Regions from separate parts of the Homo sapiens genome. Here region 2 is reported to be linked to region 1. Evidence: microRNA targets listed by miRTarBase, many of them from high-throughput screens and not tested one by one. Region 1 holds a microRNA gene; the other region holds the end of a gene's coding sequence.
The links. The annotated mature microRNA hsa-miR-130b-3p reads CAGUGCAAUGAUGAAAGGGCAU and lies in region 1 at 3,006-3,027, opposite strand. An mRNA with a match to its seed (bases 2 to 7 or 8) in the 3' UTR can be bound and repressed. Matches are read on the target gene's strand: a 7mer-m8 pairs with bases 2 to 8, a 7mer-A1 pairs with bases 2 to 7 and ends in A, and an 8mer does both.

Region 1 (4,380 bases):
CTTTCTTGTCGGAGTCTCACTTTGTCGCCAGGCTGGAGTGCAATAGCGCGATCTCAGCTCACTGCAACCTCCGCCTCCCAGGTTCAAGAGACTCTCCTGCGTCAGCCTCCGTACTAGCTGGGACTACAGGCATACACCATCATACCCAGCTAATTTTTGTATTTTTAGTAGAGGCAGGGTTTCTCCATATTGGCCAGGCTGGTCTTGAACTCCAGACCTCAGGTGATCCCCCCGCCCTCGGCCTCCCAAAGAGCTGGGATTACAGGCGTGAGCCACCGTGCCTGGCCAGGATGTGCCTTTTTTCATACAGGACAAGCACCCCCTTGAGGGTGGAGCAGATCCCTAATCACCCTCCCATCATGTCATTCCAGTAACCCATGCTTCACACTTTATACCTGTATTTGTATTTTTAAAAAGTGTAGGCCGGGCACAGTGGCTTACAGCTCCCAGCACTTTGGGAGGCCGAGGCGGGTGGATCACCTGAGGTCAGGAATTCGAGACCAGCCTAGCAAACATGGCGAAACCCTGTCTCTACTAAAAATACAAAAATTAGCCGGGCGTAGTGGCACATTCCTGTAATCCCAGCTACGCGGAAGGCTGAGGCAGGAGAATTGCTTGAACCCAGGAGGCAGAGGTTGCGGTGAGGCGAGATTGCACCATTGCACTCCAGCCTGGGCAACAAGAGCGAAACTCCGTCTCAAAAAAAGGGTGGGGGGTTATTGGGCCCCTCCTCTTTGTCAGACACTGCCAAGAGATTTTTTTTTTTTTTTTTGAGACGGAGTTTCCCTCTTGTTGCCTAGGCTGGAGTGCAATGGCGCAATCTCAGCTCACCGCAACCTCTCCCTCCTGGATTCAAGTGATTCTCCTGCCTCAGCCTCCTGAGTAGCTGGGATTACAGGCATGCGCCACCATACCTGGCTAATTTTGTATATTTATTTTTTATATTTTCAAGAGGGAGTCTTGCCCTGTTGTCCAGGTTGGAGTGCAGTGGCGCGATCTTGGCTCACTGCAACCTCTGCCTTCCGGGTTCAAGCAGTTCTCTGCCTCAGCCTCCCTAGTAGCTGGGATTACAGGTGCCCACCACCACACCCGGCTAATTTTTGTGTGTGTGTGTGTGTGTTTTTAGTAGAGATGGGGTTTCACCATCTTGGCCAGGCTGGTCTTGAACTCCTGACCTTGGACCCACCTGTCTCAGCCTCCCAAAGTGATGGGATTACAGGCGTGAGCCACTGCGCCCAGCCTAATTTTGTATATTTAGTAGAGATGGGGTTTCTCCATGTTGGTCAGGCTGGTCTCAAACTCCCGAACTTAGGTGATCCACCTGCCTCGGCCTCCCAAAGTGCTGGGATTACAGGCATGAGCCACTGCGCCTGGCCAGAGATTTTTTAAATGACAGTTGTCTCTGCCTCAGGGGCTCCCAGTCTAATGGACACTTCTGCCACAGGGAGAACATTTTGATTTAGGCCGGGTGCGGTGGCTCATGCCTGTAATCCCAGCACTTTGGGAGGCCCAGAAGGGCAGATCATGAGGTCAGGAGTTCGAGACTAGCCTGGCCAACATAGTGAATCCCCGTTTCTACTAAAAATACAAAAATTACTGGGTGTGGTAGCACCTGTAGTCCCAGCTATTCGGGAGGCCGAGGCAGGAGAATCGCTTAAACCCGGGAGGCGGAGTTTGCAGTGAGCCAAGATCGTGCCACTGCACTCCAGCCTGGGCGACAGAGCAAGACTCCATCTAAAAAAAAAAAAATTTGATTTAACAAGCTGTTCTGGAGGAATATTCAATGCTGTGAAGCCCAGAGAAGGCTTCCATTGGGAGGGAGCCAGTGAGCAGAGCCCTGAGTTCAGTCTCCCCGCAGCAAGAGCAGGAGACAGCTGCATGGGGGTCTCCAGCCAGTGGGTACAGAATCTGTACAGGACTGAGGGGTGGCCACCTCCAGCCATGGCCCCTGGTGCCTAGAGGAAGGGAGGATGGATCTAAGTCAGATGACCCTAGGATCAAGGAACCCCAAGGGATCAGGACTAGGAAGCCAAGGAGCATGTGTCATTGCCCCTGTTCCTCCCACGGGTGCCAGGGCTTCTCTCCCCAGGGTAGGGGTAAAGCAGTTTCCCAATGCGCCCAGCTAGGGATGAGGGGAACTCCCAAAAGCCCATCTGGAAACCTAGTCCTCCTCTAAAGAAGATTTGAATGACTGTGACTGGGCACGTAGAAACCTTTTGCACCGTGTCAGGTCTTGATGGTAGAGGTGGTCATCCAAGCATGCCTGGGGTCAGGCTCCTTGGAAGTTCAGCTCCAACCCTGTATTCCAGCTGGGACGGTTGGAATGTTAGACACCTCAGTCCCTCCTGCAGGTTCAGGGCACACCTCTCTGTAAGAGAACAAACTGGCATGGTTGGTAGACATCATTTGCAGGCTTTGTATCCCAAGTCCACCCATCCATCTCACATAGTACCACTCCAGCTGAGTCCACTCAACTGATCAGTCAACTGGTCAGTCCATAGTACCACTCCAGCTGACGTCCTGGGGTGAAGGCTGCCTCCTGAAAGGCCTGCCTTACCCCCTTACCCAACTGCCACCCAGAAGAACATTCTCTCCAGAGCCTGGCCCTGTTCAAGCTTCCAGCAAGGACTGGGCCCAAGCCAGGCCTAGAATGATCTTCCATGCAAAAGACTGGGCGTGTATTTCCCCTAAGACCCTGACCAGGCCTGGAGTTCCAGTCTTACCCCAGGGACCCAATGTGGAAAGACCTTCAAACAAGAGCTTTTCAGAAGCTGGGGAGGTCTGCTCCTGCACCTGTCCAGCCATGACAGGATGGAGAGTTTAGGGATGATTCTCCAGCTCTGCACCCACCTGATCCTCTGATGGAGGGTCCAGTCCAGCTTCACATCTGTGCCTAATCAGTGGAAACACTTACCCTCTGGGCACCTCAACCTTCTCAACTGGAAAGTGGAGTGAGGCAGCAAGCTCCCTTTCCCCCTCCCAGGGTAGCAGGCTGGACCTGACCGATGCCCTTTCATCATTGCACTGCTTCCCAGCGGCCTATAGTAGTGCAACAGGGAAAGAGTGTCGGGCAGGCCTGCCAGTGCCTCCCCCAGGGTGGTCTGCAGGGATCTGAGACCTGGAATGCAGGCTGGCTGGGGCGGGGCCTCTGCCCGGGGGGAAAGGGTGCCCTCTGACCCCAGAGGCCCAGGCCTGTCTAGAATCTCAAGTTTCCATGGAGAAGGGAGCGAATTGGGTAGGGGGGAGGGGAGGGCCTGCAAGCCCAAGGGGCCCTGCCTGGGGAGTGGGAGGTGAGGGTTATAGGGAGGGAGATCCCCAAGGCTGGTCCCAGATGCTTTGACAATATCATTGCACTGCTTCTCAGAGCACAGTAGTGCAACCTCGTCAGAGCACCTGCGGCCAGCAGGGGGGACCCCACCACCCCCAATACACGCAGGGCGGGAAGCTCAACCATGGATGGGTGGGTGGGGCAGAGCCCCCGTCCAGTCCATCCGGGCAGGGAAGGAGACCGCAGCGGGGTGCGTCCCTGGGGTCTTCAGAACCCAGGACACCCAGGCCTTTCCCAGAACGCTCCGGATTGAGGTGGAGGAGAAACCCCAGACTAGGGGGTTGTTCCAATCCCGGAGCAGGAGCTGACGGGCCACGCAGGGGAGGGGGCGCACACACAAAGACGAACCCGCACTCAGCCGCAGTCCAAAGCCGGCTAGCGCCCGGAGCGGGGTGGGTACAGCCCGACGACCCTGCGCCCTGACTCGGCCCGCGGCTCCAGGAGAAAAAGGGCGGCCCCACCCCGGGACGACGCGCCCCTTCTAGCTGACGACTCCATCCCTGGCCCCTTGCCCTGCACTAGATACACTCTGGATTCTTTTCTAACATATTCTTCTGCCTGGAGGCCCAGAGTGGAGCAGAGGATGGGGGCTCCCCGCCCTTCTAGAGTTCCCTGCTCCAAAGAGGGCCCCCGGGATCCCGGCCGCGCCCCTCCGCCTGACCCGCCGAGTAGGGCCGCCCAGCCCAGCCCAGGATCCCCTCCTCAGACACAGCTGACTCACGCAGACATCCCTTCCGCCCAGGGCCCGGTCAGGACGCGGAGGGTTAGACGGAAGAGGATCCCGGCCATCGTCTGCCCCCGGGTCCCCGTCCAGACGACCCTGCACCTCGTGGCGGCCCCTCGCCTGCCGGCTCCATCTTTAACCCGCTGACAGTCGGAGGGGCCGGGCCCCCGACTCCTTAGCATAGCGCTGCGCTCATTGGCCGGCGCTGGCGCGGGGATTCGCCTCCTGCATGCCTGTTGGCTGAGACGGGAGAGATTTCAAAATAGCCTCCGGGTTCCGATTGGCCCGGCGCCGGCCGAGTCTCGGGCTCCGTGGTTTTAACAATGAG
Region 2 (4,308 bases), not on the chromosome of region 1:
GGGCCTGGTGCCCTCATCCTACCTGGGCCCCGCCTGGCCCCTCAGCCTTGTGCCCACCGCAGGTGCCTGATGGCTTCATCTCCCATTTCTACTCCGTATCGGAGCATGTGAGCCCTGTCCTAGCCTTCGGCTTCCTTGGACCCAAGCCTCAGCTTGCTGAAGTCTGTGCTTTCTTCAAGGTAAACAGAGAGCAGTTCTCGTTCTTTCCTGACCCTTGCCCTGAGCACAGGCGCCCTGGGAGGTGCCAGGAATGGGATGAGGGCCTGGGCCTGGGCCTGCTCCCAGAGAGAGGGCAGAGCCAGACCCACATGGGTCCAGAGGAAGCAGTGGGAGGGAGGAGCCTGGGGATGGAAAGGACCGGCTGGGGCTCTGGTGGTGGACAAGGGGACTTCAGGTAACCTGGGGGGCATCATGGTGGGCAGTGGCTGGGCCAGGCCTGACACCAGCCCTGCTCCCCCAGCACCAGATTGTGCAGTACCTGAGGGACATGTTCGACCTGGACAATGTGCGCTACACGTCACTGCCCGCGCTGGCAGACGACATCCTGCAGCTGTCCCGGCGCCGCAGCGAGATATTGCTGGGGTACCTGGGGGTGCCCGCGGCCAGCAGCGCAGGCGTGAATGGGGCGCTGCCCCGAGAGAATGGGCCCCTGGGGGAGCTGCAGTAGAGGCGGCACGGGCTGGGGGGTGGCAGAGAGAAGGCTCCTCCTCCCTTCCCTGGGTTGGTATCTGACAGCTGTGGTGGCTGAGGGCCGTTGCCCCTGACTTTGCCCCACCCCCATCATCTGGGAGTCCCCAAGGCCCAGAGGGGACATTTCCATGGAGAAGAACGGTTCCTGGGGGAAGCAGAGGCCAGGACCAGTGGGGCCTGTGGGAGAGAAAGGCTGTGAGAGAGGGGGTTGTTGTGGAGAATTGGGACAGGCAGAGCCAGGATGCCCCAGGTGGGGGACCCCAAAACCTCCCATCGCTCCAGGGCTGCTGACAAGGGTGCTGGGAGGGTGGAGGTGAAGGATGGGGCCTAGAGCCCTGTGGTGAAGGTCACAGTGTCCTGAGCTAGAAGCCACCTGTGGCTATATGGTCTCAGCATCCAGCTGGCCTGTCCTGATGCCCTCCCCACCTCAACCGCCTTCTCAGAGAGTTTGCAACTCCAGAGAAGGAGAGTGGGGCCACCTTAGTGGGCAGCAGGCCTGGGCCATCCAGAGATGGGGCAGAGGTGGGCCTCCCACTCCTGTGCTCTCTTCTGAGCAGGAACTGGGCCCTTGACAGTGTCCTTTGACATTCCCTCGCCCTACCAAAGATCGTCTTTTCTCCTCCCACCTCTGTCACCACCAAAGACGGGCGGAGGTGGGGCTGGGCCCTCCTGCCCCCGCCCATCCCCCTTCCATGAGCCCAGACCTCCCTGGGTGGTGCTAGGCTCTGAGCTGGGGGCTCAGACCAGGGATCGCTCAGGCCCCTGTCACCTGTGGGCCCGGGGACCACTTGGGGGAGGTCAGAGGATGTATGTGGCCGGACCAGCTTCCCCACCTTCATTAGGACAAGAAACTGCCCAGCACTTTGCCTTCAGTTCAACGCACAAACGCTCCTGGGGCCTCATGGGGGCAGAGCCTCCCCTGGGCCTGCAGAGAGTCCTGTTAGCAGCGACGTCCCCCCGCCGCGGGGTCCTGTCAGCCCGGCAGTGTCTTCTCAGTGTCTTCACCTGAGCGAGTGTCTGTGGCCCCAACGCGTTCTGCTGTGGCTCTGCCCTTTCCAGGTTGAGAGGCCTGCAGGAGAAACACACTCCCCTCCTGGGTTTCCACACTCAGGAGGTCAGAGGACTGGCTCCTGTGACCAGGGCCCCTCTCCCCTGAATGGGAAAGGGGTCTGGGGATGGGAGGGCGCACCACAGAGAGGAGATGATGCTGGGTGTGGCCCATCTTCTGTGGGCCCCTTCCCAGACACCGGATCCATGGGCACTAACCCGCCTCCCAGGCTGATGCCCGGAGGCAGCTTCCTGGGCAGGAGGGTTCCATGGGCACTAACCCACCTCCCAGGCTGATGCCTGGAGGCAGCCTCCAGGGCAGGAAGGACCCTGTGCTCCCCGCCCCCCATCCTGACATCCTGTTCTTTTGCACTTACCCTGTGCTGTGAATGTAACAGTGGGCCTTGGCCCCGCCCACTCTGATTTGCATTTTCATTTGTGTTTGTTTACACATCCATGCACTGCCTGTAGCAGTCGATTGTCACAGCTTCGACTTTTGGATGGTAGAGTGTGTGCACTGACTGTGAGTCGAATAAACAATTGAGACGATTTCCTTCCACTTTGCCATGTTGTTGGTTATGTGCATGGCTGTTTGCTTCTTGGGGCAGAGCAGGGCACCTGCTTTTTGGGGTGCCGTGGGTGAAGGTTCCAGGAGGACAAAGGTCAGGAGAAGCCTGGTGGGGGCTGTGATCCTACTTGGGGCAACTTGACTGCCTGACAGGATCCAGCCATCCCTAGGCAGGGAGGGCCCCGGTGGTCCGCGGGGAAGGGTGGGGAGCGGCCAGTGCCACGCTCAAGGCCATGGATGCAAGGTGGGCAGCCTGGCTGTGGACCCTGCTCAGGCACCATCTTAGGGAAGTCGATTCTCACTGGCCCTCAGTTTCCACATCTGTAAAATGCAGGCACTGGACCGGGCCAAGATGCAGACTCACAGGCTTAAAGGTTGTTACCCCCCAAGCTGTGAGAGCCAGGGGGAGGGGCTGGAACACTGGGAACAGGTCCAAGCCTGCCGGATCGTTACAAGTTTTCATGGGCAGCTGGAAATCACAAGTTTTATTTTACAGGTTTTTAAAAAAGAAACTTTAAAAAAAAATTTCAAATGTATGGAAAAATTGAAAAAACTATATAAAACCAACACTTCTGGTCATGTAATTAACATTTTGACTTTTTTTTTTTTTTCTTGAGACAGAGTCTCGATCTGTCACTCAGGCTGGAGTGCAGTGGCACGATCTCAGCTCACTGCAAGCTCTGCCTCCCAGGTTCACGCCATTCTCCTGCCTCAGCCTCCCGAGTAGCTGGGATTACAGGCACATGCCACCATGCCCAGCTAATTTTTTTGTATTTTTAGTAGAGACGAGGTTTTACCGTGTTAGCCAGGATGGTCTCGATCTCCTGACCTCGTGATCCGCCCGCCTCAGCCTCCCAAAGTGCTGGGATTACAGGCGTGAGCCACCGCTCCCGGCAACATTTTGCCATGTTTATTTCATGTATTTCCAAAATACTTTAGCCTAAGTTTCAGACATGTACTTTACTCTTAAACCTTTAAGCAGAGCTTAAAAACAAGGTAGTCACATTCTTGTAAGTGGGAGTTGAATGATGAGAACACATGGACACACTGCAGGGAACAACACACACTGGGGCCTGTCGGAGGGCAGGGTGTGGGAGAAGGGAGAGCATCAGGAAGAACAGCTAGTGGATGCTGGGCTTAATACCTAGATGATAGGACTGCTGGACACAGTGGCTCACGCCTGTAATCCCAGCACTTTGGGAGGCCGAGGCAGGTGGATCACTTGAGGCCAGGAGTTTGCAACCAGCCTGGCCAACATGGTGAAACCCGTCTCTACTAAAAATACAAAAACTTGGCCAGGCATGGTGGCGGGTGCCTGTAGTCTCAGCTGCTTGGGAGGCTGAGGGACGAGAAGTGCTTGAACCCGGTGGGCAGAGGTTGCAGTGAGCTGAGATCACACCACTTCACTCCATCCTGAGTGACAGAGCGAAACTCCATCTCGAAAAAAAAAAGAGAAAAAAAAACCTAGGCGACAGGATGATGTGTGCAGCAAACCACTGTGGCACATATTTACCTATGTAACAAACCTGCACATCCTGCACATGCACCCCTGAACTTAAAAAACAAAAAAACAAGGTCATTCTCCAGAATAACCACAATACCATGATCACACCTAAAAAAAAAAAAAATTCTCGGGGCCAGGCACGGTGGCTCATGCTTGTAATCCCAGCAGTTTGGGAGGCCGAGGTGGGTGGATCACCTGAGGTCAGGAGTTTGAGATCAGCCTGGCCAACATGGTGAAACCCCATCTCTACTAAAAAAATACAAAAATTAGCCAGGCATGGTGGTGCATGCTTGTAAGCCCAGCTACTTGGGAGGCTGAGGCAGGAAAATCATCTGAACCCGGGAGGCGGAGGTTGCAGTGAGCCGAGATCACACCACTGCACTCCAGCTTGGGCGACAGAGCAAGACTATGTCTCAAAACAAACAAACAAACAAACAAAAATAATTTTCTAATGTCTTTGCTGAAAATAAGAGCTTTTCCCAATCAACTGGGGATGAAC

Region 2: miRTarBase lists MIGA2 as a target of hsa-miR-130b-3p. Seed matches in the 3' UTR shown: 7mer-m8 at 2,105-2,111.

The regions. Positions count from the first base shown.
Region 1 is chr22:21,652,001-21,656,380 of GRCh38, reverse strand. It overlaps MIR130B (microRNA 130b), which reads right to left and starts at 3,077; the gene lies at 2,996-3,077. MIR301B (microRNA 301b) reads right to left here and starts at 3,400; the gene lies at 3,323-3,400. It also overlaps the pseudogene LOC107985532. RefSeq lists enhancers at 3,687-3,736, 3,273-3,944, 3,945-4,380.
Region 2 is chr9:129,069,787-129,074,094 of GRCh38, forward strand. It overlaps MIGA2 (mitoguardin 2), which reads left to right. Exons shown (of 16, transcript NM_001329990.2): 15 at 63-179; 16 at 461-2,296. The coding sequence ends at 667. Among named protein-coding and RNA genes, the nearest start is that of DOLPP1, 9.2 kb to the right of the region's middle. RefSeq lists enhancers at 1-110, 1,058-2,007, 2,008-2,957.